Regions from separate parts of the Homo sapiens genome. Here region 1 is linked to region 2. The links come from fine-mapping of genetic effects on gene expression. A gene starts in region 2. The other region holds a variant in brackets. All regions are shown on one strand. Distances are between the middles of the regions.

What was found.
Region 1: its variant is fine-mapped to the expression of TOMM34 in whole blood (TOPMed, PIP above 0.99).

The regions. Positions count from the first base shown.
Region 1 is chr20:45,080,941-45,096,445 of GRCh38, forward strand. KCNS1 (potassium voltage-gated channel modifier subfamily S member 1) reads right to left here. Exons shown (of 4, transcript NM_001322799.2): 4 at 10,274-14,400. The coding sequence ends at 13,930. Among named protein-coding and RNA genes, the nearest start is that of KCNS1, 12 kb to the right of the region's middle. The variant G/A (reference allele first, on the strand shown) is at 7,503.
Region 2 is chr20:44,952,964-44,968,468 of GRCh38, forward strand. TOMM34 (translocase of outer mitochondrial membrane 34) reads right to left here and starts at 7,434. Exons shown (of 7, transcript NM_006809.5): 1 at 7,244-7,434; 2 at 3,423-3,522; 3 at 2,105-2,257. The coding sequence starts at 7,370. STK4-DT (STK4 divergent transcript) reads right to left here and starts at 13,495. Exons shown (of 3, transcript NR_038341.1): 1 at 13,154-13,495; 2 at 12,599-12,722; 3 at 10,831-12,485. LOC124904912 (a long non-coding RNA gene) reads left to right here and starts at 2,253. Exons shown (of 2, transcript XR_007067599.1): 1 at 2,253-2,657; 2 at 5,374-6,574. STK4 (serine/threonine kinase 4) reads left to right here and starts at 13,549. Exons shown (of 11, transcript NM_006282.5): 1 at 13,549-13,640. The coding sequence starts at 13,606. RefSeq lists enhancers at 6,363-6,452, 7,233-7,282, 7,293-7,382, 14,764-14,843 and silencers at 7,613-7,692, 13,374-13,623, 15,304-15,433.

The DNA.
Region 1 (15,505 bases), 130 kb after region 2:
ATGACTTCATTTGTCTTCTCACACACACTCTTAGGTAAATGATAGTGTACCCTTTCTATAGACATATGGACTTTTACAGTGTGCAGTACTGCCCACCAGGGGGTGTTTTGGAAATGTATGAGAGTGTTTTTGTGGTGATAGTGATTGAGGAGCCTTACCAGCATTTAATGGGCAGGGGCAGGTTTGCTAGATGCTCTGCAGTGCATTCTGGGACAGTCCTGCATAACAAACATCTGTCCGGTGTCCAACACAACATTCAGATGTTCCACTGGTTATTAATTTTGGTGAAAATTTTGTTTATAAACGTGATACTAAACCAAAGTTCATTTACATGTAAACACAAAGTACTTTTTATATGGTTTTACTGTTTTGTTTTTTTTAAGAATGAACTATGAAGAATGGAGAGACACTTGTAGTTTGTTTTGTTTGGACCTTTACTAAGAGTTGTTCTCCATTTCAGAAAACCACATCATCAGTGACAGCGATGCTTGTGATTTTTGAGTCACTCACTCAAGATTGGTTTAGATCTGTAGCTGTTGTTTTCACAGAAAGTCTATGTAACATGTAAACACATGGTAATTTCAGAGAATGATGAAGTACAGCAAAAAGAAAAGAACAGGGTAATGGGATTGAGAGTAACGTGTGCATGTGTGTGCATGCACATCTGTGTATGTGTAGGGAGAGATGGCTTTATATAGAATGATAAACGATGCTTCTGGAGAAACGATGTTTATAATGAGAACTGCATGACAAGAAGGAACCAGCCAGGCTGAGGGGACAGCAAGAACAAAGACCCTGAGATAAAAACAAAAGTTTGGCTTGTTGGAAGAATGGAAGGATTCTTCCATGGCTGGAACAGTGTGTACAAGGTGGGTGAAGGCAAGAATGTTCAGGGCCTTGTGGTCCATGGGAAGGGGTTTGGGTGTTATTCCTGATGAGATGGAGAGCCGTCAAAGGGTTTTAAGCAAGGAACTGGCATGATAGATTTATGCATTTTGAAACTATGCCTTCATGAAATAGTGCTCAACTTTAGTCATCAGGAAAATACAGTCAGCCCTCCGTATCCATGGGTTCTACATCAACCAACCATGGATCAAAAATATTAGAAAAAAAAAATGGCCCAGCACAGTGGCTCACGCCTGTAATCTCACTTTGGGAGGCCAAGAACTCATTTGAGGTCAGGAGTTCAAGGCCAGCTTGGCCAACATGGTGAGACCCTGTCTCTACTAAAAATACAAAAATTAGCTGGGCATGGTGGCAGGCCTGTAATCCCAGCTACTCGGGAGGCCGAGGCAGGAGAATCGCTTGGACCCAAGAAGCAGCAGTTGCAGTGAGCCGAGATTGTGCCACTGCACTCCAGCCTGGGTGACAGAGCGAGACTCCATCTCAGAAAAGAAAAAAAAATTGTGTCTGTCTTTCTTCCTTAAACAATACAGTATAACAGTAATTTGCATAGCATTTACATTAGGCATTTTGTGTAGCATTGTATTAGGTATAAGTAATCTAGAAATGATTTAAATTATACAGGAGGATGTGCATAGGTTATATGCAAATACTAGGACATTTCATATCAAGGACTTGAGCATCTGCATGCAGATTTTGGTATCCATCAGAGTTCCTGGAACCAATTCACCACAGATACCAAGGGACAACTGCACAGATTAAAACCTTAATGCATTACTACCGTGTACCCACCATAATAACTAAAATGGAAGAAATAGAAATGCTAGGTATTGGTGACGATATGGAGCAACTGGAACTCGAGTACTGGTGAATATACCCATGACCTAGCATTCCTTCCCTAGGTATTTTCTCAACAGAAGTGTGTATGCCTTTTTACCACAAGACATATACTAGAACATTCATAATGGCATTATTTATAATTTTGCCAAACTGGAAACCATCTGGATGCCCAGTGGCAGCATAAATAAATTACGTAGATTCGCATAGTGGAATACTATACAACGAGAATGAGCTACCTATAGCTACTGTGGAAATAAGCAAAAGGGTATTGTGAGCTTGCTACAGCAAAGAAGTCAGCCACTGTTACTTGCATTTTGGCAGAGACTCAAAGGCAGGCAAAGGAATGGGAAAGTAGAAAAAAAAGGAAGGCTTCAGGGATGCCCTGTTGGAAGCTGTTGGCATGGGAAAGCTGTAGGTGGGCTAACTTGAAGCAGGACATCCTATGTGATTGATTTAGGGGTGCATATTTGGTTTCTCTGTTTGATCCTAAGTTGGAAGTGGGGACAAAAATTGGGGAAGCTGTCAGTTATTAATCAAGTCCTGACCATTTTGGCTTGATTGTTACAGAAGTTATTGTTTAGCTTCCTGGATTGCCACTGGAGATAGCAATCTGTCTTCCTGCAAGTCTGACTTATAGCAGGCTGGCAACCTGGGCTATTTATTGTAGATATGGGGTTGGTTTCCTGGGCAGGTTACTGCAGGTTGTGGGTCAAAGTTCTATTTATATATATATTCTGGGATTGTCCATTTGTACATTCAGTCTCTCACTACATGCAACAATATGGCTGTATCTCTCAAACATTTAAATGAAGCTAGACACATCCATCGATGGATGAATGAATAAACAAAATAGGGCCTACACATACAATGAAATATTATTCAGCCTTCAGGAGGAGGAAATTCTGACACATGCTGCAACATGGATGAACCTTGAGGACATTATGCTAAGTGAAATAAACCAGTCACAAAAGGACAAATACATGATTGGACTTACATAAGGTACCTAGAGTAGCAAGGTCTCTTCATAGAGACAAAGTAGAATGGTGGTTGGCAGAGGGAGGGAGAGAGGGATGGGGAGTTAGTGTTTAATGGGCCCAGAGTTTCAGTTGAGGAAGATGAAAAAGCTCTGGAGACAGATGTTCTTACAACAATGTGAGTGTACTTAATGCCACAGAACTTTACACTTAAAAATGGTTGAAATGGTAAATTCTATATGTATTTTGCCACAATAAAAAATCCAGATACAAACTAGTACATACTGTGCAATTCTTTTTATATACAGTTCAGAACCAAGGAAACCTACTCTATGATGTTAAAAGTCAGGGCAACGATTGCCTTTGTTGGTTGTGGGGTAGTGACTGGATGTGAGTATGAGGAGGGACTACAGTGCTACTCAGGTTCTAATTCTTTGAGTGCTTGTTACACAAGTGTGTTCATGATGAGAAAATTTATCAATGTGAACTCTTAGGATCTGTGCTTTTTTTTCCCATATGTATTTTATACTTGAATAAACAAGACTTTTTGCCTTCTACTCCACTGGGCTCTTTTAGAAGCTTCCAAGACCATGGATGGGAAGGCCCCTTGGAAACTACCTAGGCCTCTGCAGATGTAAGGGGTGGTTACTCTTAGCCCATGAGCATTTATCCCAGCCACATCTTGTTCTGATGAATGATCCAACAGAGGCCCAAGACTTGGCAGTGTCAAGTCTGGATTCAAACTTAGGCTTCTTGACTCCAGTGTTCACTCCAGGACCCCAACTATGGCCTCAAGTGTGAGTCCAGGTTGTGATCTCTAGATAAGCAAACCCCTTCCTTTCCCAGTGCCCTCTGCTTGGAGTTGCTTTGCCCTCCAGAGGAAAACAAGAGCCCTGGTAGAGGCTGCTGAGCTCTATTTCCTTGCTTTGCATTTTTTGGGCTTCTTTAATATTTAACCTTGTGCCAGGCATTTTCATACATATTATCTTACTTGAACTTGCCCATAACGCTCTGAGGTGTAGGTGTTATTAAACCAAGATAAGTGAAGAAACAGGCTCAGAGAGACAAAGAAACCCAACCAAGATCACACACCTCATAAGAAGCAGATTCAAGCCCAACTTGCTGGACTTAACCACATTCTTTCCTCTGCATCGCATGGCATCCCTCATATTCTCCCATTTTATTCAAATATTGTAAATAACTCACTGTCTGAAGCCAACACAGAAACACAGAGCAGAGAGAGAAGCAGGGAAAAATGACAAGATGACTTCAGTGGAACCTCTGGATCCACCTGTACTTAAGTCACTTTGTTGGGTCTCTTTCACTTGTACCTGAAAGATTCCTTATTGATCTAGGTATGTAGGAAAAGATGGCAGGGAGGTGGGGTGGGGGTTGGATACCAGTTGGGGGTTGGTCCTGATAATAATACCCCTTAGAGGTCAACAGGTCCAATCTAGGGTCACACACTGATGAGTGGCAGGGCCAATATTTGAACCCAGATGTGACTTCAAAAACCAAGGTGTGTGCAATTCTTCCTCTTGAATGAATGAATTTCTTGAGGGTTCTGAACTCTACCCTTCTGAGCAAGGTTAAATACCAGTCTACAACTGCCCTTGTCCTTTTCTTCCTTTCTAGCAGACAGGATTCTGAAAGACATTCCCTGTGCCACCCCCTCCCCTTCCTTCTCAAAGACTCCTGTCTTAGAAGATTATCTTCTCAACTTACTAACTTCCTGGAGAATTCTTTCCACACAGGCAGGGCCGGACTGGCCTGAAGTATGAGGTCTGGTATTGAGGACCATCCCAGCCAGCACCTCAGGGCTGTTTCCAGAGCCTTCAGATAGAAGAAACTCATTATAGGACGCACACTTCAAAGCCACTTCCTTCAGTGGTGCCTGGGGAGTTAAGTTTACCAGACAAAGTGATAATAGTGGGAAGTGGTGCTGAGTGAGTACAATCTGGTATTAAAAAGCCTGAGTTTGAATCCCTGATCTGCTACTTTTTAACTGTCTGACCATGGATCTTGGTTTTTTCATCTGTTCAGTGGTGATACTACTATTTTATTGTTGTTGCTGTTGTCTTGTGGAGTTGTTGTGAGAAGTATATGAGATAATGTATGTGAAACCACTTTGCAAATTACAGTGACAAGGATATGTGGAGGATGACTATTATTTGCTAGGCTATCTTCACTCTTGGGGGCTTCAAAGAGTACCATATAAGTCAACTGGAGTCTTCCACTCTGATGTCCCAGTGTAAACACCCTGCTTGGCCCTTATTTGAGCTGAACAGCTCTTCTTACTCAAAGGGATTGAGGAATGGGATTTGCTTCTTGTCTGACCTTGGACTTCTGGGTCTCTCTTTTCTGATCTGTAAAATGGGGCTGGAGAGGGGGCAGATCTTCAATCTGATAATCCCTAAGGAATATTATGTCTCACTCACAAGGGAAGTCGCCACCTTGAGGTCACTGCAAAGAGGGGGAAACTCAGTTTGTTTATCATTAACAACAAGCACATCACATCTCAGAGCCCAGATGTGCTGAGCTGTCCCACATGCCCCCAGTTGCTCCCTAACATCTCTGGACATTATCCTTCCATTTTACAGAAGTTGAAACTGAAGACCAAGAGAGCAAGACTGCAAGGGATTACTATGAGATCCGTCCTGTACTCCCTCTTCTGGGAACTGCTTGACTCCTACCCCAGCCATAGGTTCACATGATCCAACCCCTTCGCCACAGTTGAGTGATCCAGTCATCTCACCCAAGGTGACCAATCTCTGGGCCAATCAGATTTTTCAAACTGGAAATGGGAAGTTCTCTAGTGGAGGCGCTACAAGATACCAAACTGGGAGATGTTGGTAACCCTGTTATCTACCATGTGATGCAGAAACCAATTTCTCCGTCTGTCTATCTGTTTCTCTGTCTCTCTCTCTCATTCTTGATTTCGTCGTTGCTGAAACCAAGCTGCCTGGCTGCCATTCTCACTCAGTGGTATTGTAAAAGATATGTGTTGGTTTTGTCTCCCCTGGATCCTTTCCCCTCATTTTAATGAAAGGACCCTCATCTTCCTTCAGGGAGCTACCCCTCTGCCATCTATGTCCTGGTGGGACTGTCTGTGATAGTTCCTCCCATCTCACCCCGAAATCATGTGATGAGCATATGACCCAAACCAGTCTAGTTAGACTCAATCTTCAGAGAATTTTTTAGCTTGAGCAGAGTGATTTATACAATGGAGGCAGTTGTCACTAAGCTATTTTAATTGTAGTGCCCCAAAGAGGTGATTTATGAGTTTTACCTACCTCAATCCCTATGTTGCTCGAATTGCTGTCTTTCTCAAAGCCTTGTTGTTTAATTTGACTTTGATCCTATCCAGTACCTTTCCAATGCAGTCCTTTTTTGGCTTAAGTTTTCCAGAGTTGGATTCTGTTGTTTGCAACCAAAAATTCCTAACTGATACAGAAATTGGAACTAGAGTTGAGTTGTAGACACCATATCCTCTAGGAAATGTGGGATATTTCCTAAGACTGTGATGGGGCAAAATACAATGAGGTTGTTGCTCATGCTCTAGTCTGGGAAGCCAGCAATGGTCTGCAATGGTAAAGACCTATGTCTTACATTACTTCATAGCATCTGACCACTGAGGAGGCTCTCAGAGAAGGGATAACACGTGTCACAGTTAATTTTAAGGAAGTGAGGAGTGTTCAGGCTGTGTGATAGAGTATTTTGTTTCTAACCACATAGATTAATATAAAGGGAGAGTCAACAAAGGAAGCCCCAATGCCTTTTTTTTTAACATAAAAAAAATTCATAAACAGAATGAACGGACAGCATTTCTATGACTACGGTAAAAGACTCTCTTATGACTTGCAGTAGGGCCTAGTTCTCCAAATACCAAAGTTGGCAATTGATGATGCAGGCTGCTGAATTCACAGCCCTGCTGCACTTTGTGAAGTTAGGCATTAATAGGCAGTGGGATTATGACAAGTGGAATGATCATATGAGAGGATGTGGGAGAAAACTGAAAGCTCTCTAAAACACTGGGTGCAAACAATTCACACCTTTTCTTAGAGGAGAAAGCTCACAATTTTCTGCTTGCCCCATCCCTCAAGGCTACTTAGCTGGAAGGTGGGGATCAGTTTGGCCTAGAGCATGACAAGTAGACACAGTAGGTAAAAATCCTGGACCCATACAGAATTGAAGAAACTTGTTAACTGACACCATCAAAAATTTGGGGAAGTATCTGTGGAAATGGATTTTTGTGGTGCTTTATCAAGGAAGGGGGAATGTAATCTTGGCTCAGGCTGATCTTCTTGATATGGTTTCACTTGCCAGGGATTATTTGGCATTCTCTGTGCTAGCTCCAGGAGCTGGCAAGGCTCTAACAATGTGATGAGTTGGCTAATGCAAACTTAAAACAAATGCTGGCCCACGTGAAATGGAACTTAAGGGCCCCAAATCCCTTGGCATCATGTAGAAGAAGAGATTCAAAGATTTCTGAAAGACAGGAGGCTGGATTGGATCTATTTTGTGCCTCCTTCCCACAAATACCTCTAACTGTAGCCCTCACACTTTACCCTTGCTTTGAGGAAAGTCAAGAATGCTGGGTGGAGGGGCTGCAATTTGAAATAGGTTGCCTGATTCAGAGGGGAAGAAGAATGCAGAGATGTGGGAGGCCAGGCGTTGGCACTTCATCCTCAGAAATGAAGTGGGAGTGATCACTGGAATATTCAGTAGGCTCTGTATGAGGCAAGAACTCATGGTGTAGTGTTACAGGCCGAAATGATGAGGGTC[G/A]TGATCAACTCCATATACTACTGGAGGCTATATGAGTAAGCAGCAAACTGTTTCTCATAAATGCAGAATGTTGGCAAACCGACGAACTGCATCTGCCACCCGGCAGGAATGCTGAGGGCAGTCACGTCCCAAGCATAGTGTTTCTTGTGATTAGGTACATCTGAAGCCTGTTAGTAACAATATGAACCTGTGATCAGTTAAGCAGCTGACCAATCATTACCTCCTCCTCCCTGCTCTTGTTACCCAATAAATAGGAAGGACTGTGGAAGCTTGGGGGCTGCCTTTGCTCACTAGAAGCGGGGAGCTCTCTTCTTCTTCCCCGGCCCCTTCCTTTAAAATAGTTTCTTTTGTCTTAAGTTTTCATTTCTATGTTCGTCCCTTCATTCAGTCTTGTAATGACGGTCTCAGGCAGTAACAGTAGTAAGCTGTCGTAATGATGGTCTCAAGTAGTAACCGTGGCACACTGCCACAGTGTAGGGCCCTAAAAAGTTAAAGGCAACCCACTAAAGTCTTACTTGATTTGTTTAACCAGCAAAACATAAGAAACAAAGCAAAATGGAAACCAAAAACACCCTCTAGTTCTGGCAAAAAAAAAAAAAGTCACGACTTGAGCCACTGTGTAACACTGGGCTTGCGTTTATTGATCTAAAGCCCTTTGATTGAAGGATATGCTACTCACCTTTGAGGAAGGACTCTGCTATATTGCATGAGTGTAATGTGAATATTTCTCTTGCCTTCTCCAAAAGGATCTGTGGCCATTTCCCAAGGTAAATGGATACTGGGGAAAGGGAAATACACCATTCAGGGAACCTTGATGAAGACTTCGAGCTAATACCAGTTTCTTGGGTTCAAGAGTACCACTGTAGGTCCATCTATCATGTGAAAAAGTGTTTTGGCTTTTGTCCATGCCACTGGAGGCCTAATGGAATTCCAAAACTATTCTATATCAGCAGTTTCGGAGAGATAGTTGGAAAAGATCCCCATATTGGCTCTCTGACCCATGAAGTGAGGGCCATTGTGATATAAAAGGCCAATAGAATACAACTGAACAACTGTTTCAAAATAGAAAAGTCAACGATAGTAACATATCTTTAGGGGAGGCTGCAGAGATTAGTGTTTCTACCAAAGACCTTGCAGGCTGATGACTCCAATCAAAACACCATTAATTTCCTCTGGTAGGTGCAAAATTAGATGGGTCTTGGAAAATGACAGTGGATTACTTTAGTCAGGTGATAATTCCATTTTTAACTGTTGTGTTAGATATATGCTCATCATTACAGTCCCTGGAGTCATGCATCTACTAGTTTCACTCTCTACTCTGAGGAACAGAAACCACTGGAAGCATTTTGCTATTACCTAGAAGGGATAAGAGTTTTCATTTACTGTTCTAACTCAGGCATACCTCTGTTCTCCAGCTCTGTAACAGGAAGGCCTTGATTCCCCGAATATCCCTATTCTAAAAGACAGCAAACTAATTTTGACTAAATCAGTTGACTAAATCACATTAACAGGGCCTGGAGAGCACAAAGGAGCAGACACTTCAGCTCTGTAGGTAAGACACACCTTTTACAAGGTGGGAGATAAATCCAGTGCATCTCAGTGAAGTTTCTTAGAGTGTCCAGTACCCTGGACATATGTGTAGTACTTCTATCACCACAAAAGAAGTACAGTGTTAATTTGGATTTTGTTGCTTCTACCGCTATCAGATCCTGGCTTGCTACTGGGCTTTGATGGTGAATGAAGGCCTAACTATGGGATATCAGGTAATCTGATGACCCAACGTGACAAACTACGATATCATCCATCCAGATAGAAAGTCAAGCATGCCTAGTAAGGACTCCATCATCAAGTGTATCCATGGGTACATGGGATTTGGCTCACGTAGACCCTAATGATGTAAGTTGATTGCATGAGAAGTTTGCTTTCAATCAAGTTGCATGTTTTCTGATTAAACCCAATGACCCACTTGCAAATCTATTGCTTCCTATCCTATGACTCTGAGCTCTGCTGACTTAAGAGATTTTGGTACCCAAGGGAAGAATACTTCTTTGGTACTCAAGGAAGAATACCCTGAATCGGAGACTGAGCCTGTCACCTGGACTTTCGGAGCTTTTCTTTTCCCTATGTGTGTATAAAGGGAGTTACAGTCTTGATTAGGGTAATCAACCACCCTGTCAAGGGGAAATATGGTTACTGCTACACAAAGTAGGCAGAAAGGAATGCAAGTAACTCCATGGAATTCCTTGGGGAATCTTCACATGCCAGCAGGACTAACAAGTGCTCAGATTCGCTAGGAATAAAGGTTTAGGTTACCCCATCAAAAAAAGAATCCCAACCAACTAAAGTGCTGGCCAAAGGCAGGGGGCATGACATGGCTCACAGAGAAGGGATGTTATAAATGCCAGCAGCAGCCTTATGACCATTACAGAAATGAAGACATAGCAATGGCCTCTTTTCCTCCTTGCTGTGTTTTTCTTTTCCTTTCCTCTAGTATCATATAGGGTATGCTGGTGGCAGTTACATTTACCATTTATTCCTTATATTACAGGATATTGAGACAGAATTAGTGGTACCAGTGGAAGAATGAACTTATAGCTGGATTCATGAACAGGATATGCCCCATAGGGTGTCTTTCCTTTGGGGAGATCGGTATATGTTGGTTATATATAAGAGAGTTTCCTTATGTTAGAAACATGCATAAATCGTGTGTATGGGAAAAGGATGGGAGTGTATGGTATGCTATTTTTGCTTATCAATAACTTTTGCCTTTCTTTTGGTGACAATAGGTGGTCTTTTATTTGGGTAAGTACCTTTCCTCCAACTGCCGCAAATACTAATACGGTACCTTGCCCTCCATCCCTCCCAAGAGAGAGGCATATGACTCAAGTGAAATCAGACTCTCTCCTGGGATTGGAACTGTGAGCAGGATGATACAGGGAAGGAAGTTGACTGGAGGCAGATCATGTGGGTAGCAGTGTCTTAAACAGAAGGTTCATGAGTCTTGCTACTGAGGTCCCTAGAGCTCCCCTCATTCCTGTATTTCCTGAGGCCTCGTCAGTCAGCTCTTCCTTTGGTCGGGTGAATTTCACAGATACCCTTCTGTAGTGGGCCAGATGGTGGCCCCAAACACCTGTCCATATTTTAATCTCTGGAACCCGTAACTATTACCTTATTTGGGAAAGGGTCTTTTTGCAAATGTGGTTAAGTTAAGGATCCTGAGATGAGGTCATCTTGGATTATCCTGGTGGGCCTAAATGTCATCAAAAGTGTCCTTGTAAGACAGAGGCACTGGAAGACTTGACATACACAGACACTGAAGTGAGATCAGAGGCAGAGACTTGAGTGATGCAGCCACAGCCAAGGAAAGCCAAGAATGGTGGCAGCCACCACAAACTAGAAGAGAAAAGGAGAGGGTTTCCCCCTGGAGTCTCCAGAGGGAGGGTGGCCCTGCTGACATCTTGATTTTGGATTTCTGGCCTCCAGAACTGTCAGAGAATACACTTCTACTGTTTTAAGCCATCAAGTTTGTTTGAATTTGTTACAGCAGCTGCTGGAAACTAATATATCTTCCAATAAATTCATTTTTTGCTTGATGTCAGTTTGTTGCTTATACCCTCAAACTCTAATTGTTAACAGTCATTCATCACTTTAATTATTTTATAAATTACCCTTTTTGACCAAGTTTGTTCCAACTGAATTCCTGTCACTTGCAACCTGTTCTGGCTGGCACAACCACAAAGTTTGTGCCAAATCCAGGACTGGAGCCTGAGAATGTGGATTCCAAGTCATTCCACATATTGCCCACCCTCTCCAATCACTCAGACAGCATGTCAGGGAGCCATCTCCATACAAGCAGAAACACGTCCTGGGGCCCAGCTCTTTATTTGCATAATGGTTTTCACTGATACATGGGAAGGGGAGCGAGTTGTTGCTTTTCTGCCAGGACCACAAACAGCCTCATGGTAGGCTCAGGCCAGATGATTCCCTCTTGAGCTTTCTCCACATCAGTATTAGGGACCTGTTTGTAGGGTCAGAAAATATGGAAGCCGTCGGGTTTCTTGGTGTGTTCTGCAAGACCATAAGGGTGCTACACGCAGCCCTTCTGATCTGCCCCTAACCTGGGTTCAGCTGGGCCTAGATGTAAGGAGCAGAGTGTGCAGAAGGGCTGGTATGTGTGTGGTGAATTCAAGGGAGGCCCTTTGCTGCTTAGCTCCATCCTCTGTTCCAATCTGGAGACCCAGAATCCATGCGTATGTAGGGGGCCCACTATGTACTAGGCCCTGTGTATGACACACACCTTCACACATGCCATTCTCTCTGCTTGGAGTACTCCCCCCTGGAACCTCATTTGCTTAATTAGCAATTTATCATTTGGATGGCAGGTTAGATTGTCACTTGCTCAGGAAAGCCTTCTCACTTTCTCGGGCCATGGTCCCTGATACATTATACACACCTGTACTTAGTAGAGCTCGCTATATTTATGTGATTATTGCATTAGAGTCTATCTTCCCTACTAGTCGGTAAGCTTCATGAGTATAGGGATATATTTTTCCACCACTGTATCTCTTGAGACTAGTAAGCAGCCCATAAGTCAGAAGCCAGTATATCAGAGTGGCTGGGCATAACACAACGGCATGTGTGTCTGTTTGTGGGTGGCAGCGGGGGAGACACTATGGGGAACCTGAGAGTGCATGCCTCACGCAAAGGCATTCAGATTCTTAAAATATAATAAAAACACTGTTGGACTAAGCCGAAACATGACTGCAGGCCACACATGAAGCCCCAGTTTAAGACTCTTCCAACGGGTATTTGTTGAGTGAGTGAGTGAAGAACCTACAAGGAATATATTGTAAAAACTTCAAGAACCAAGCAGGGACAGGGCAGGCGGAGCTGAACGGACCTCCTTTTCAGTCTTGTTCACACCTTTTTGAGGGCCAGGTCTCTCTCTGGCTATCTTTTTTTCCCCCTCTGAGCTTGGCACCCAGTGGGCTGTAGGAATTGGTTGATCTATTCAACATTTACCAAATACCTACTCTGCACCAAGCCCAGAGTTCAAGCAGACAATGTCTTCCATCTTGAGGCTCAGGGTGATGGGACAGAGATAGCCACAGTCAGACAACAACAGCACAGTGCTGGGTGCTGTAGCCACAGTATGTGGAAAGGGCTACTGGATCCCCTCCTCTGACTTTCTCAGCAAGTGAAGAGAAGATTCAGCAGGTGGGTATGAGAGATATGCCCCCAGCAAGGGTGAGGGGGCTGGAGCTGGCCAGAAGGGAGAGGACTCTCACACATGGGCCTGGATGGGTACTCTAGGTAGGGCTGGACAATGTAGGGCTGGACGTCTGTGTGATGGGCAGAAAGGAACTGCCAAGGTCAGACTGTTGGGGGAGGGTCTTAGAAGCCAGTATTCATATATGTCAGCCCTCTGAACATTTCAGAGCTGAGCTGGCTTTAAGTTAGAGACCCCTCTGCTCTCCTTGGCTTTCATTGCCCTCTGGGTCACAGATTCTGACCATTTGACAGAGGGGCTGGAATCTGGACTTGGGGGCAGGGATTGGACCACTTTACACAGCAGGTCTTGGCGCAGCTAGGTTGTCTAGATCTCAGGCCAGGGGCCCTTCAGATTTTCTTTCTCTCACATCAGCCCTGGGAGGAAGGTCGGAAGATTATTGCTTAGCAAATCTTGCATACCAGCTAAAGAGGCAAGTACAATGCTATGGTACTTCCTCCCAGGACTCATCCTCCTTCCCTCCAGGACTCATCTTTGATTGCTGACTCCTGTTGGATGCTCCTAGAAAGGAACCACAGCTGAGATCCAGAGCTCCTATATCCAAATCTCCTGTCTGGACCCTTCCCTGGCTCTGAAAGGGATTTCTTATCTTGTGGATCAACTCTGGGGATCCATGAATCACCAAAAAACACACGCAAACTTCATGAGGGCAGAAGAAAGATGGAGTTGATGGAGCATTGCTCCAGGCACACCAACAAGCCCAGATTCCAAACCTGACTCTGCCACTTCTAATTGTGACATCTGGGAGAGGCATCGCTCATCTCTTAGCCTTGGTTTCCTCATCTGTGAAGTGGGGATAATTCTCTTTCTCCAACACAAGGCCAAACATGACCTGGTTCATGTACAGGAGGTGCTCAGGAATCATTAGTATCCTTTCAACTTCCTCCCTCTGGCTCATGCCTGCTTCATGAATGGCTTGGAGGCAGGTTTATAAAGCTTTCTGAGTTGCTTGCAGAATCTCACAGAATCTAGGGTAGCACTGTCCTGTCCTGGGCCTTTGGAGGAAGGAATGCAGCTTTTGAATCTCATTTCTCAGGACAGCATGAGTGATCCTGGGAGGCTCACTACCATGAAGAACTTTAGCAGGGGAGGAATCTCTACTGTAGGGGCATGGCAGGGGGTCACGGATCCCTGGTTTTAATACATCTGAGGGTGTGGAGGCTCACTGGGGGCCTGGCTCTCTAGATCTGCAGACTGTCCCTCCTGAGAGGTTTCTCGGGATGTCTCCAGAGATGCCTCCGACACCCCATCAATGCTGCTCAGCAAGTCCTCAAACTCTTGGTGGTTGCTGTTGCGCACGGCTGCCTCCAGAGCCTTCTGGCGCCGGTAGAAGTGGGAGAACTTGTTGAAGATGATGGTGATGGGGAGTGCTACCACCAGGATGCCCCCTAGGATGCAGCCTGAGGCTGCCAGCTTGCCAGCCACCGTCACTGGCACCACATCCCCATAGCCCACGGTGGTCATGCTCACTGTGCCCCACCACCAGCAGGCTGGGATGGTGTTAAAGCCCACGTCCTCCTCCTTTTCAGCTGTGTAGGCCACACCAGAGAACACTGACACACCCACAGCCAGGTACAGCAGCAAGATGCCCACCTCACGGTAGCTGTGCTGAAAGAGAATGTAGAAAGCCAAGTCAGAGTGGATGGGCTTACAGTCCTGGTATTAGGCATATGGGGAAACTGAGGCCCAGAGAGTATAAAGGACAGGTCCAAAGTCAGCAAGATAGAGCTGGTGCTAAGGCCCAGGTCCCCTGACTTTAAACTAAGACCTTTCAACTACAGTTGGCAGCAAAACCCCCTGGTATTGCGCACAGGCCTAAGTTCTATTGTCCAAGGTATCTGCTAGGCTACAGCTGTTTTTTCCAACTCCGGGGTTACTGGTGGCACCACAGCCAGGGAATGAAGAGCTTGTGATTTTTACACTGTTGCAGAACCAAGAGAACCATAGTTTATATTCCACAATGCAAAGAGTTGGTTTCATGTACTTTTGACTGGTCTGAAAAGTATAAAAATATTTTTTGCTCCTCCAGGAAGCTGAGAGGACATAAGTCCCCTGGACCACCCACAGAATTCACTTTCCTATGGCTGTGTATGTTTGCTTTGTCCCTGAGGCCAAGCTCTAGGGCAGTGATTCTCAAACAGGGTGGTTTTGCCCACCACCTCCCCGCCTCCACCCCGCAAGGGACATTTGGGAACGTCTAGAGACATTTTTGGTTGTTGCAACTGGGACAGGTGTGCTACTGCCCTCTAGTGGGTAAAGGCCAGGGATACTGCTAAACATCCTAAAATGTACAGGGCAGCTCCCACATCAAAGAATTACCTGGTCCCAAATGTCAGTAATGCGAGGCTGAGAACCCCTAGTCTAAAGCAGAGTCTCTCCAACTTTAATGCGTGCAGGAATCATGCAGGGGTCTTGGCAGAACGCAATCGCATAGTCTTGGGTAGAGCCAGAGAATCTACATGTCTAGAAAGCTTCCAAGTGATGAGAAAGCTGCTGGTGGTCAGGGGCCTCACTTTGAGTAGCAAGGCTCTCATCTGGAGTATATTACACCTGCATCTTAGACCCTGGCAGCTCTGATTAGTAATACTCTTCTCCCCTACTGAAGACAAAGCTAGTAGTGTCAGGCCCTGGCTCTCTGCATGGAGGGGACAGGGCAGCGTTCTGGGGCACAGGGATCTTCCCTGGGGAGATGCTGAGCTCAGGGGGTCTGCTG
Region 2 (15,505 bases):
ATACAAACCTACCTGCCTGGGTGCCCAATCCTTCCTATTTCTCTCCTGTCACAACAGAAGAGACAATGGGACCAATCCACCCACCTAAGCTCTGGATCCCATCTCCTCTTGCCTCTTTCAGGGACCACACCCAGGCAGCACCTCCCTCTCCCACATCTTCATCCTTCCTCTCTACTAACTCCAACCGTCAGCATTTAAGTCCCTTTAACTCTTTCCTCACCTAATAAAACCATACTGGACACCCCTTGCCATCACAGGTATACTCCCCAGCTTCTCTTCAAGCCTGACTTTCTGAAAGCATTGCCCTCTGGCTCCTGATCCCACTGACCAGCTTCCATCAGAGCCACCGGTGACTTCATTGCCAAACCTTTAATGTAAGCTCCTTGGAACACCTGACACTAATGATGTCTCCATCTTTCTTGAAATACTCCTTCCCTTGGGACATCAATGCCCTGTTTCCTCCCACCTCTCTAGCTGCTGTTCCTCTGTAAGTCCCTCAAATGCTGGAGTTTCTCAAAGCTCCATCCTCTTCACACTAGCTGTGATGTTCTTTTTCTTTCTCACAGCCCTAATCCACCTCTGCGCTGATGACCCTCAAATCCTTATGTCTGGCCTGTATTTTCTTCCTTTGTTCCATGTAAATACCCAACCGTCCTACTTAGATCTCTAGTCTTATGTCCCACAGTCACCTCCGACTGAATGTCAATAATCTGAGTGTCTTCTTCTATTCCTCCCTTCTCGATACCCCGCAACCACTAAAGCTTGTTGATATACTTCCTACATGTCCCCTGACTGGTCCCATTGTTTTCTCTCCACCCTCTCCCCTGGATTGCTGCATGACTCCTTTCTATTCTGTTGCCCTTCATATCATCCCTCAACATGGCAGCAAAGAGCTTTTCTCTAAAATACAAATCTGCTCATGTTGCTCCACTGCTAAAGACCTTTTCATAAAGGCTGACTTGCTCAGGATTAAGTCCAAGCCCTGAACCCTGGGTCTTGTGTGACTTGGCCTCACCAACCTGTCCCAAGCTGAGCTCCTGCCTGCAGCACCATGTGAAACCGACTTCTTACAATTCCTGTGATCTGTCACACTTGCTCACCTTTGCACACGCTGCTCTGTCTTCTGGCTAACCCCCTACCCCATATCTCTCATTCTTAGCTCACCTCCTCTGAAAAGCTCTCTCTGGCCTCCCCCTCTCCCTCTCAGCTAGCTAGGTGGCTCCTTTCTGGCCTCAGAGCCCCCTGTGCTGCCTCCTACCATGGCGCTTATCATGTTGTATTGTGCTTGCCTATTACTGACTGGTGTCTTCCTTGAGACCGGGACCTCTATGACGGCAGGAAGAGGTATGTCTCAGTCATCAGCCCAGGTCCTAGAGCAAAGTCTGTCACATAATTGGTAGATTTTGTGGAATCAGATAAGTTAAAAAGGAGGCAAAGAGAAAACAAAGAATGCTGGCAGACAAGTCAAGCCAGAAATAAAGCACTAAATACATACCATGAAGTCCCTGTTAAGGGTTTGCTATTAGTGCAGTGTTTGGCTTTCTAGCCGCACACGCAGAGGGGAAACATGATCAGTTATACAAATGACAATATCCATGAGATAAAAGCCAATAACTGCTCAGAGACCAGAAAGGAATTGCACCTGGGGAACCTCTTGGATTGGTCACAGTGCAATATACTGAACCATGTCCACAAACCATATCCTTTTAGGCTTGTCATAGCTGCTTGGGCTTGTGTCTTATTCTTCTAATTAGCGTTAGCGCTTTGAAGGTAAGTGGGGTCTGTATCTCTTTCTCATTTTGGTATCCCCCACTGAACCGGGCACAACACCTTAAACAGTGTACAATAAATATTACTGTGTACATAGATACTGTGAGGCACATGTAGGCAAATATCAATCAATCAATCTTAGTAATTGACTCCCTGAAAACCTGCTAAATAAAAAAGCAGATTTTCCTTTCTCAGCTTCCCCTACATGCCCATCGGGAGTTTTTTAAGTGTAGCCAAAGGGATCCCCTCAGAAGACAGACAAGGCAATGGCCCGCAGCCAATCAAGAAGGACAGGGAGTTGCCGTGGAGACCACCTGCTGGGAATGGAGCTCACCTGTTGATGCCTTCTACGGCTGACGTCACATTATCATCAATCTGCAGCACAGTCTTATAGTCAACATAGGCCATAGGGTACTTCTCCAGAGCCTCATAAGCAGATGCTCGCCGCAGCAGGGGCTTAATGCTGAAGGGAACCAAGGCCAGTGCTCTAGAATAGGAGGCAAAAATGTCAACTGGCTGGCTGCTGAGCCACCAGGGTTTCCCTACAGTTTCTTCCAGGCAGGGTTATCTGGAGCACTCAGCGTACAGGAAGTAATTTCTGGCCGAGAGACATGGCTAAAAACGCCAAACCTCAGAACAGGGATTTTTCAACGTAGACTGAAGTGAGGAGGAGAAAGAAGGCAGAGAAACATGAATTTTGTTAAATGTGTGTGCACATGCATCAATTTTCATAGTTTCAGTTCCCCCAAAATCAAGAACAAAAGCCTCATGGCTTTCATGCTACTATGTTTTTTTACAGTTGTGGTCTAGTGGGAATAACAAACAAGCTTTGGAGTCAGATGGGGTGGTGTCTGAATTCCACCTCTGCTGCTAACTATGTGACCCAGGTAAATCACTTTACTGCCCCAACCCTCAGCAACCAAGTTCTGGCCTGGGACACATGGTAACCGTACCCCACAGATTGGTTGTGAACACTCAAAGAGGGAAATCTGGCACAAGGCATGGCACAAATTAATTCAGCACAGGCTCTGTGAGTATGCTCACACCCCTCCTGCTCTCCTGGCTATCACCAGGGCAGGAATCTAAAGCAATGTCAGAGGACATCAGATCTGAGAACACATTTCAGGTAAATGTGAGAGTTTAATGATGATAAAAGAATATTAGACTGGCTTGAAGAAAAAGAGATATGAAACATTGTTCAGTGTCCTCTAAAACTGGTCATTCATGAATACCATTTTTTTCCTTTCTCCTTCTGAGACAATCTATTAACCTCTATTCCTCCTTCTTTCCTTCGCTCCCTTCCCCTCACATACTCCCATCCCAGAAAAGCACCTGGGCAAGCCAGTTACTGGTCTGCCACTCCACCTTATTCCCAGGTTTCAAATTGCACAAAGACTTTACGGCCTGCTTCTAACTGCCCATCCCACTCCTTTTTCGGCAGCAGAGCCAAGACTCCAAAGATGCAAGTCACGGGCCATAAGGACCAAATAAAGACTCCCATTCTCAGTGACCTGGTGAAACTCAGTGACACTTTCTTAATATCTGTCCCAGATGTAATTGATGGGATCCTTCCAAAGAAGAAACAAGCCAGATTAACCCAGCCTCCTCTTCTGAGACCCTCAGGCATCCCAAAATTACCCTTGGCCACTTACGAAGTGCAATCTTTGATGCAGTCTCTGCAGTTTCCATCCTTCAAGTGACATGCTGCTCGGTTGGAGTAGAGAACACTTTCTTCTTCTGGGTCTGAAGAACCTGCCCAGATAGAGTGGGGAAGATGATCAGTTTGGAAAATGGGTGCCTCAGGGCATTAGGATACATTTCAAACTCAGAGCTCTTTGGGCCTTGTGTTAAGGCAGTAGAGATAACTATAACCTGTTCAGGCTTGTTGGTCTGCTGGGCTGGCGTGTTTGTCATTCTTATGTGACAGAAGGACACTGCGCTTTTTGCCATTCAAAGGGAACCAAGTATTTCCTCATTCACTCATTCCAGCACTGAACTTGATAACAGACAAAAGATAAACAAGAAATAGCTAGCTTCTGCCTCAAAGAAATCCATGCTGTAACTACTTGGGTTTGGGTGGATAAATGGATGGATAGGTGTGTATTTTATTACAAAAAGCATTTAAATCCAAGAAAGAAAGAAAAAAAAAAAAAGAAAAGAAAGGGAGGGAGGGAGGGAACAAGATGATAAACGTATGATAAATGGATTGACCAAAAGTTGTAGGGGCACAAAACACCCATGAAAGACATGAGACTAGTTTTACCTGGTCAAGCCAGGGAGGACTTTGTCAGGGAAATGATAATTGAGCTGGGTGTGATGGGAGTACAGAGAACTTAATCAGGAAAAAGTCTTAAGCTACCCCATGGGGAGAATTATTAGACATTCTTCTAAGGCAGTCCTTACCCTCAGGAATCGCAGAGGCTCAAGTCCTTCACTGTGGCCACCATGATCTTTATTTACGTATTTTTTTTTGAGACAGAGTCCTGCTCTGTTGCCCAGCCTGGAGTGCAGTGGAGCGATCTCCGCTCACTGCAACTCCACCTCCTGGGTTCAAGCAATTCTCCTGCCTCAGCCTCAGCCTCCTGAGTAGCTGGGATTACAGGCACTCGCCACCACGCCTGGTAGAGACAGGGTTTCACTATGTTGGCCAAGCTGGTCTTGAACTCCTGACCTCAGGCAATCCGCCTGCCTCGGCCTCCCAAAGTACTGGGATTACAGACGTGAGCCACCGTGCCCAACCAACAATGATCTTTATTTTTAAAGATAATTTTCAACCACTTCATACCCACTAGTGTCGGCCATTATTTTAAAAAGAATTGAAAACAGGGTCTCTTTTTGAAAATTTTGAAACATACAGAAGACCATTATCTCAGAATCCACCACTAGATTTAGCACGTTATATTAGTTCCCAACTTTTTTAATTTTTAGAGACAGCGTCTCCCTCTGTTGCCCAGGCTGAAGTGTAGTAGCACAATCATAGCTCACTGCAGCCTCAAACTCTTGGGCTCAAGTGATCTTCCCAGCTCAGCCTACCAAGCAGATAGGACTACAGGTGTGTACCCCCAAGCCCAGTTAATTTTTAAAGTTTTTGTAGAGACAGAGTCCCACTGTGTTGCCCAGGTTGGTCTTGAATGCCTAGCCTCAAGTGATCCTCCCGCTTTGGCCTCCCAAAGTGTTGGGATTATAGGCATGAGCTATGGCACCCAACCCTTAAAAATTTTTTTGATAAGCTAAAACTCCAGCCATCCCCATCCTTATCCCTGTGCTCCCTCCCCAGACTCACAGAGGCCAGTACAATCCTGAAGTTGGTATGTAACATTTTCAAGCATGTTCTACATTTACATATATATGTATATATGTATATGTATATATGTATACATGTACATGTATATATATGTATATGTATATATATGTGTGTGTGTGTGTGTGTGTTAACAGGAAAGATACCATTTTATGTCTATTAAAGCATTTCCTAAGAGGCATCATATTGCCTATCCTTCTGCAACTTACTTTTTTCACTCAGTATCCTGTTGCCATGTTGATATTTGATATCTTTCATTCAATACCAACAATAACAAGCGTTTTCCCCTCTTGTTTTGCCAGGCCCAGAGACGGAAAGTACAAAGACTAGTAAAATACATCCTTGCCCTTAAGGAGCTAAGTACCCAAAACCTGTAATCCATCTTGAGTCACCAGAGTACGGTTGCTCAGAAACAGCAGTGGTGCGGTGGAAAGGGCATCAACCCTGCGATCCGGACAAGTCACTCCATCCCTCTGATCATGCGTGCCCACCTACCACATGAGGATATCACTTCATAGACTTGCTGGAAGGGTTCATTGTGTTAGCCTGTTCCCTGAGCTCTCTTCGTGATCAAGAAGACTGATCAGATAAATCAAGAGACTTGCCCAAAATTACCTAGGAAATCTGTAGCAGCAGCAGAACCAAACTCCGGTCCTTGCTAAATCTAGATACCAGGCTAGCTTTTCTATGGACCCAGAATTAACCCATACAAATGTACAAGCTTTTCCAGACCAGCTGGGGTGAGATGAATGAAAATGGCAGCAACATCAATACCTCAGCTTCTTCAGCAACTTCATCAAGTAAGGCTGCCATGAGGAAGTGGGCCTAAAGGAGAGTTTTCTAGAACAAAGAAGGGGGCAAAGGAGTGGCTTGAAACTGCAAAAAGTGCAGACAAAAAAAAAAAAAAAAAGAATGAAATCTGGAGAGGATGTGAGGAGAGGTCTAGCAAAATGATTAAAAATTTGGACTTAGCATCAAAGTCAAACAGATCCATATTCAAATCGTGGCTCTTCCATGTCTTCACTATGTAACCCCGAGGGAGCCAATTTAACTCTCTTGGACTCCTCCTTTCTAAGCATTTTATCCACAGGGCCATAATAAAGATCAAAGGAGATCGTGTCTAAAATGTCTAGCACATGGTAAATCACTCAAGAGATGCTAGCCAAGAAAAGGAAAAAAAGGAAGGCGGCAAAGGGAAATAGGTACTGAACGGTGACTCACAGAAACCAGGATCCAAGGCTCCTTTCAAAAGTCAAGGCTTTAACCAATGAGGGTTTCTGATTAAGTCACCCTGGAGAAGGGGCTTTGGGCAAAGGTCTGCGGTATGCTGACGAAAGCTGGACGCTGGGAGAACTGGTAAGAATATGCTATTCTTCTGTTTCAAACTCTCCAGTAGCTTCCCATCCAGCAGCTTTCATGCCAAGCTTCCAGTTTGGCATGAAATCCGAACTCCTTAGCAGAGTTTACAACACCTCCACAATAAATAAGGGTCTGCCTTCCTAACTGACCTCATGTCTTCCTATTCCCTGCCCTGGCTCACTATGCTTTGACCCCTGAAACACACCATGTTTATATCGTCTTGGAGGGGGGGCCTTTCTCATTGCAGTTCACTTCAGGACCGAAAACCTTGTGCGCTTGGCTTCTCATCATTTAGACATCACCTCAAATATCACTTCTTTACAGATGTTGCCCTTGATCTCCCACTCCAGTCAACTCTATCACATCACCCTATTTGTCTTCTTCCTAACCCTGATTATCCCACAGGTCTCGTTTACTTACTGACTCGCTTAAGACTCACGTCCTCCCCACCGCCCCCACAAGAATGCGCTGTCCTTGAGAGAAGGGACTTTTTGTGTCTTGTTACACAGGCGGTATATAACAGCTACTCAACAAATACTAACTGAAAAATGAATTGCTGCGGGGGAGGAGGGTTTAGCTTTCTTCTCAGGGCTCAGAACGAGGCCTAAATAACTTAGGATGGGGGCCAACAGGGCAGTTAACAAGCAGGTGGAAAGAAAGGGCCGAGGAAGTTTCTGGTAGGATGCCGGAGTCGGAAGGGGCTGGAAGGGTGGGAGGGCCGGGCAGGACTGCTGGCCGCCGCGCGAGGCCCGGGCGGTGGTTGCGGGAGTTGGAGGAGCAGGCCCGGAGGTGAGATGGGGGCCGGGGTCGTACCTTGCGCCTGCAGCACCCGCAGCGCGCGGCCGTAGAGCGCGGAGGCCTCGGCGTACTGGCCGTTGCGGAAACTCTCATTGCCGGCGGCGCGGAGCTCCTCCACAGAGTCTGGGAATTTGGGGGCCATCCCGTGGCCAGGCCGGCGAGTTGGGAGCTCCTTCCTTCCTCCCCCGTGTGGTGCGGCACACCTTCCGGGCGCAAGCGCCGGCGGCGAATATCTCCGCCCAACAGCGAACCCGCGGCGAGGGGGCGGGGCCTGCGAGACCTGGAGGCCCGGAGCGTCCCGCCCTCTGCGCGTGCTCGGTTTGGAACTTAGGCTCCCTTGCACGCGGGGCGGCAGCATGCTCTGGGCTCCCTGAGTTGCTAGAACGCCGTGGATGACGCAGGGAAGGAGGCTGGCCCCGCTATCAGGGAGATTATGTCCTAGTGGGGTCCCCACAGGCAATTAACTGATAAGCAAACGAAGACTCTCATTTCATGTGATTAGTGCTGTAAGGAAAACAAAACAGGATAATGCAATGGAAAGTGACCACGTGTGGGCTATTTTAAATAAGGGGATGAAGGAAGGCCTTTCTCAGGGGGTAATAGTTGAGCTGAGACCAGACAAGATTTAGGGAATGCTGTTCCAGCCAGAGGGATGGTAAGTGCAAAGGTTCCAAGGCTAGAAAGTACCTGGTACCTAGTGCTCTATAGATATTTATTTAATAAATTAATGCACAGGTGGATTGATGGTGTCAAAGTCAACATATAGAGATGAATCTCTAAAGTTTAAATATTTTATTTGGCAATCAAGAATTGCAATTCAGGGCTTACACACAGACCAGGTTGTCTTTGGTATGTCAGAAGAACAAAGAGAAGGTTTGGAGATTTTTATAAAACAGAAATGTTACATATTGCTCTTCAAGGAAGTTTACAGGCACTAGTAAAGTGGGGGTTTATCAGCTTCTTGGGGAGCTGGCAAGCTTTGATTGGTAAGTGATAGTGGTGGATAAAACTCAGAATTGTAGCAGGCTGTTTCAGTAGCTATTAGATAAAACTGGTTTTAGGTTACAGCAGGCAGTTTTAGCAGCCAGGCTTGCAAAAAATTACTTTTTTGGAGCAATGTTATATGCCCTGAGTATTTGTTCCCCTGGCTTTTCAATTCTGTCTTAGTTGGATATGACAAGAATGACCCAATTCGTATGATCAGCTTTCAGAATGGATGAAGATCTTTCACAGAGTGTGACTTCAATTTATCTCCAGCCTCATCTGACGACTCTATGTCCCACGCATTGCTATCTACACACACTAAATTCTTGCTTCCTAGCCTTTGCTTGTTATCTCCTTCTCCTGGATTTTTTTTTCTAAATACTTTTTCTCCTGCCTAATCCTGAATTAACTTATAACATTCCATTCAAACATCATCTTCTCTGAAAGCCTTTCCTGCTTCCAGCCCCCTCCCCACCCCCCACTATGCTCCCTTTGCTCCCTATTGGTCTCTAGCTTTATCCCTAACTTTGCATTAGTCACCCTTTGATTGCCAGTTTGTAGTTTTCCTTAAACACTGCGAGGTCTTTAATGGCAGGAAGTGGGTCCTTTTTATCTTTGTTTATCCAAGACCCTAATAGGGTCTGGCATCCAATAAAAGTCATTGATTGATAAAGATCTAGTCTCTACCTTCAGGAATTCAGTTATAATGATCTGCATACACTTAACTCCACCAGACTATAAGCTTTCTGAGGGCTGGATGGCTGTTCCATCTGAAATGCTTCCCCTTGCCCTCTGCCCCGACCAAGGATGAACACTGACTGTGGTGGGAAAACCAGATGAGGCCCATGCTGCTGGCTGGCTACTCAGTGACTTCCATCTTTGCTTCCAGGAGCCTGAATTTTGCCTGAGACTCTCCCAGCCTGGGGAAGTGAATCAGGATTGCTCTAAGCCAATTAGAAAAATGTCATTTTCTCTTGCCAGTGATTCATCAAGGGATGCACATGTGATGCTGATCTGGGCAATGAGATAAAAGGGAGTCTGAGGCTGGTCGCAGTGGCTCACATCTGTAGTCCTAGCACTTTGGGAGGCCGAGGCGGGTGGATCACAAGGCAGGAAATCGAGACCATCCTGGCTAACACAGTGAAACCCCATCTCTACTAATAATACAAAAAATTAGCTGGGGTGGTGGCACGCACCTGTAGTCCCAGCTACTCAGGAGGCTGAGGCAGGAGAATAGCTTGAACCCGGGAGGTGGAGGTTGCAGTGAGCTGAGATTGCACTGCTGCACTCCAGCCTGGGCGACAGAGCAACACTCCGTCTCAAAAAAAAAAAAAAAAAAAAAAAAGAGTCTGCTGAGTGTTTATGGGAAAGGTTTCCCTCCCCATAACAGAGAGGTACTGGGTCAAGTAGCCATTCTTGCTCTTTTTCTGCTTTGGGTAGTGCTGGGTTAAGGATATGATACCTGGAGGTGTGGCAGTCATTTTGCAACCATGAGGCAATAAACACAAGTATGAAAAGCCAACATGCTGAGTAGGATGGGAGGGGAAAAAATGAAATAGATATTGCTGAGTCATTGAATCAACTGCTGACTTATTAGCTTATTAATAAACAATAAAGGCAAGGTGTGGTGGCTCACAGCTGTAATCCCAGCTCTTTGGGAGGCCGAGGTGGACGGATCACTTGAAGTCAGGAGTTTGAGACCAACCTGGCCAACATGGTGAAACCCCATCTCTACTAAAAATACAAACAGTAGCTGGGCGTGGTGGCATGCGCCTGTAATCCCAGCTACTCAGGAGGCTGAGGCAGGAGAATTGCTTGAATCCAGTGAGCCCAGATCACTGGGCTGCTGTGGTCCATCCTGGGCAATACGGCGAGACTCTGTCTCAAAACAAACAGTAAATGCCATGGTGCTTTAAGCCAACATTTAGATGTTTTCACTTGCTTGCAGCTGAATATTTCCTGAGTGGTTTATCGGATAAGTGTAGCTGTGGCAAATTTTATTTTCCAAAAATGGCCCCAATAATATTTCTGGTTCCCCAAGCTCTTCCAGACCCTTGCCACTGCCCTATGAGGAGGTGGAGTCTGCATCCCTTCTCCTTGAAACTGGGTGGGCCTTTGTGGCCCCCCTCCACAGTGGTAATGACATTAAGTATCTTCCACTAAAAGGCACTGCAGCATCCCACTTGGCTCTCCCTCGGGAACATGCTTTAGAACCCAGGCTTTATTTTGTGAGGAAGCTCAAGAAAAATGGAGACGCCCCTAGCCTTCAGACCCAAGTGAGCTTCCAGCCAACAGCTAGCACCAACCTGTCAGCTGTGTGAAATGCCTTTTGGACAGGGCTGATTGATCCTGATTGACACCATAAACAGAGATGAGCCTTCCTGCTGAGCCATGCTCAAATTGTAGATTTCTGAGAAGAAAAAAAGACTGTTGTTCTATGCCTATAAACTTTGGGGTGGTTTCTTACACAGCAGTCAATACCTGGAAATCCCTTCCTGCAGTGCTTCCTATAAATGCCAGGACTGATAAAAACAGTACTGAAATAATTTGAAGGAGGGACAGATGAGAGGGTCAGGGGAGGGACAAGGGAACAGAGAAGTCTTCTGGGAAGAGGTGTCTTTTTTTGTAAAATAGCTTTATTGAGATATAACTCACATATTGAAAGTGTACAATTCAATGCCTTTTAGTATATTCAGAGTTGTATAACCATTACTACAACCAATTTTAGAACATTTTCATCACCCCAAAATGAAATCTCACACCTTTTAATCATCCCCTCCAATTCACCTATGCTCCCTTCCACCAGGGCCTTAGACAACCACAAATCCACCACAGGATTTGCCTATTCTGAACATCTCCAAACCTGCCAAAGCTATGCCATTAAAAGGCACTACAGCAAAGAGCATCATGCAACTTGCATCACACTGGGGGCCTGGCACAGAAGTGGCGGTGGTGGCACCAGGCAGGGCCTGATCCACGGGGTCCAGGGTGACCATGTGGGTCATGCAAATGGCATTACACAAATATGCCATGCTTGGCTAAGTTTTTTGTAGAAAAGGGGTTTCACCATATTGCCCAGGCTGGTCTCGAACTCCTGTTCTGCCTTGGCCTCCAAAAGTGCTGGGATTACAGGTGCAAGCCATCATACCCAGTCCCTTGAATACTGTTATGCAATTGTTCCCCATTTTCTGCCAGGTGTTGGTTTGAGGATCTATTAGGATACTAAAATGTGAGTATACTCATGTACTATAGTTGACCCTGCAGAACCTATGGAAACGAAAAGTCAGCCCACCCTATACACAGGTTTCACATCCCATACTGTATTTTCCAACCATGTTTCATTGTGGATGTGGAACCCTCTGATAGAGAGGGCTGACTGTATTTATTGAAAACAAAACAAAACAAAACAAGGGTTGTATTGGTGGACCCATGCAGCTCAAACCCTTGTTGTTCCCAGGTCAACTGTATATCCAGAGCTTATAGGAAAATACCTCTCCCAGTAACCCTGCTCACCATTTCTCTCTTAAGCTATTATTATGATTAGCCACGGTTTGCTATTTAAATTTAAATTTAAATAAAAATGTGGCCTTTCAGTTATGCTAGCCACATTTAAAGTGCTCAATAGCCATATGTGGCTAATGGTTACTATTTCGGACAGCACATATTTAGAACATTCCCATCATTTCAGAAATTTTCATTGGGAACACTCTGCGGAAAAAGGGGGCCATCATAATGTGAGTCCATCTTCTGGAAAAATCCTGGGAAGGGGACAAAGGAGGTCTGTTTGGCATTGTGTAATGGTAATTTGGTATTTAATTTTCAAAAATGTTTACCCAATTCCTATTCATCAGCCAGGTGTGGTGGCTCTTGCCTGTAATCCCAGCACTCTGGGAGGCCGAGGTGGGAGGACTGCTGCAGCCCAGGAGTTTGAGACCAGCCTGGGTAATAATAGGGAGATCCTGTTTCTACAAAACACCAAAAACAAAACAACAACTTTGATGTTGTGGAGTCAGGACAGTCCTGGGTTAAAACCTTTGCTCTCCTTAGCTGTGTAAACCGTGGGTCTCAGCTTTCTTATCTGTTAACGGTAGGTACTTCTTCCTAGGGCTGTTTTGAGGATTAAGTGAAAGTCCAAGATTGTGTCTGGCACACAGTAGCTTCTCAGCAAATGTTTTCCTCCTATGTCAGGGAATGGCTCCTTTATCCCGTTTTGGGCCCATGGGTGGCCCTGAAGGGTGGGTGCTCAGGTGTTAAGTTCTGTAGATGGCATATCCTTGGGAAAAGCAAGGCAATTAAAAACAGTGAGAGGTTGCTCTGGTTAAGTTTTCTCCTATAACTTTCCCCATGGGTCAATTGGGTAGAATCTGCCATTTTCCTAATACTTACTGATGGTAGTGGCATTCGGAAGCACAATAGCTGAAGCCGGAGCTCTGAGTGGAGAGAAAGGTCTGTTTCTCAGGCCCAAAAAGAGGTTACACACCCATGGCTGTCCAGTTTGGTGGTGCAGGCCCTGAAATCAGACCAAACTGGATTTAAATCCCCAAACCTATACTCTAAGCTATGTGACCTTGGGCTAGATACTTCACCTCTCTGGCCTTATGAAGTAGGAATAATAATAATACCGTCTAGGTTGTTAGGAGTATTAAATGAGGTAAAGCACTGAAAACGTTTAGGGACTGTGTTAAATCATTAAATAAATAAAAACGGGGATGACCTTATCGGCTTGACACAGGGGATTAAATGAGATAATATATGAAGACAAGTACACGGCAAATGCTTAATTAATGTTGCTTATTTTTATGTCTGCAAACTGACTTAAAGGGGAGGCCTTTAAGAAAGACAGTGGGGCAATTTGCGCGTTGATGCATTGTAGGAGAAAATGTGCAGGGGGCCCGTTGGGACCAGAGTTCAACCAGGTAAGCGGCAGAAAACCACAAATACCTCCAGGCGTTCCTGGGGCAGCGCCGCCTCCCCAAAATCACGCAAAACTTGGTTTGCTAAGAATTGTCAGCTCTTCTAAAGGAGGCGCTTCACGCATCTCAGTCTGTGAAATGGGACCCAGGACCCAGGTAGAGGTGCGTTCTCGGCCTGGGGACCGAGTATTTTGTGCGCTCCGGTAACGCAGGAAGACAGCGCCACTGACACTCTAGAGACCAGCGGGCACCGCCTGGAGGCGCCTTCACCACTTGGCGGTTCCGGGTCCGCGCCCCACCGCGCCACAAGACTCACGCCCGAACCACGTGATCAGGGCCGTGGCTCCGCCCCGCTCCCGCGCCGCGCGCCGCTTCCGGTAGGGGCGGAAAGCGGAAGTGTGGGAGGGTCTGCGGGGCGGGCTCAGGAGGTCCGCGGGAGGATGGAGCAGTGAGCGGGTCTGGGCGGCTGCTGGCAGCGCCATGGAGACGGTACAGCTGAGGAACCCGCCGCGCCGGTGAGGGGCCACTGGCTAAGAGGACGGGCATGGGGTCAGGGGAAGAAAAGGCGGGAACTGGTTGAGGGGATACACCTGTGTGGGAGTCCCCGGAGCTAAGCGACCCAGCCGATGGGGCACCTGCTGAGTGAGGGGGGGGACGTCTGGTGGGTGAGGGTCCGGCTGAGGGGAGCATCTGCTAAGGAGGTTAGACTTGGGACCGGTTAGAGGGAGCACTCGCTGTGGTGAGACTGTGCTGAGGAACGTGGGGACAAGTTAGGGAGAGTACCTGCTGAGGCCGGGCCACTCGGGGGAACGCTATCCAAGCAGGGACTCACGGAGGTGGGGGCGAATGCTGAAGCAGGGTGAGAATCTGTGAGGGATCTCTTTAAGGGGGTGGATCGAGAACTGGCCAAGAGGAAGGCCGGGTGGACTTTCTAAGGGTCTGAAGTCCCACTTGAGGGGTGCGGTGGGGGGATCTGTGGAGGGGAAAAGCTTTGCGCCTAAGGCTGAAAGCATGCGAGGAAAGGTTGAGGGTCTAGCAAGGGAGGGGATGGTGGAGGGTAGCATTTCAGAGGATGCTGTTGGTGGTGTCCCCACTGTAGGATGGCATCTTTTATTACTGATGTTCAGTGTCTTCCTAATGGTCTTCACATCCTCCTCAGCTCTTCAGAACCTGACATTGGGAGGTAGGTAAGGAAATAAGAGGATATTTTCGAGATGGGGAGACTGAGGTCCAGAGTAGTTGGGAAGTGTTTCCTTCTTTACTCCGGGTCACTGAACCCTGCCAGTCTGTGCCCTTTTCAGGCCTCAGTTGTTTTGTGAATATCAGCACCAAATCCTAGTGGTACCTGGAATTGCTTTAGTTCAAGATCAGGATGGTGGCTGATCCTAGAAAATCTCAACTCCTGGATTTCCCTTGTGGACATCCCGGGTCTTTTGCCACTCTACCACATCTGGAGAAAAGTAGGGACTAGAGACCGAAGGAGTCATGCTTCTCTGAGGTTCAGTGTGGTTACTTCTATTTCACAGAGACGTCTGACTTCCTGCAGCAGAATGAGCTCTAAAGAAGGAAGTGTTCAGGGTGTGGAAGTGCAGGGCAACCAAGAGGTGAAGAGAAGGGATTGACTGCCTGGGCAGCACTCTTAGGGGTTGTTTGAGCTTGGGGATGTTTGAGGTGCACAAACATTGCAGAAGGCAAATAGGTGGTTGGGATGGGCTTTGGATTCACCCTAGCGTAGTGTGCTGAGACTGTAATAGTAATGATTATTACACTCATATTGCACTTACCGGGTGCCAGGCACTGTTCTAAGTGCTTTCCATGTGTCCTGCTGAAGCATATGAAATTGCTGATATTTGACCATTTTTGAACCATAAAAACCTCATTTGAACTCATTTGAACCTCACAACAATCCTGTGTGGTAGATATCCCTATATGTCTGTTTTACAGATGATAAAACTGAGATACAGAGGGTAGTGATTTGCTGGGAGAAGTCATAGCAAGTAAGAGACAGAGCTAGGATTTTAATGTCTATGGGGTCTGGTCCAAAGTCCATGTTCTTTTTTTTTTTTTGAGACGGAGTCTCACTCTGTCGCCCAGTCTGAAGTGCAGTGGCGCAATCTCGGCTCACTGCTACTTCCGCCTTCTGGGTTCAAGCGATTCTCCTGCCTCAGCCTCCTGTGTAACTGGGACCACAGGTGCGTGCCACCACGCCTGGCTAATTTTTTGTAGTTTTAGTAGAGACGGGGTTTCACCGTGTTAGCCAGGATGGTCTCTATCTCCTGACCTCGTGATCCGCCCACCTTGGCTTCTCAAAGTGGTGGGATTACAGGCGTGAGCCACCGGGCCCGGCCATGCTCTTAACTGCCTCACTCTGATGCCTCTC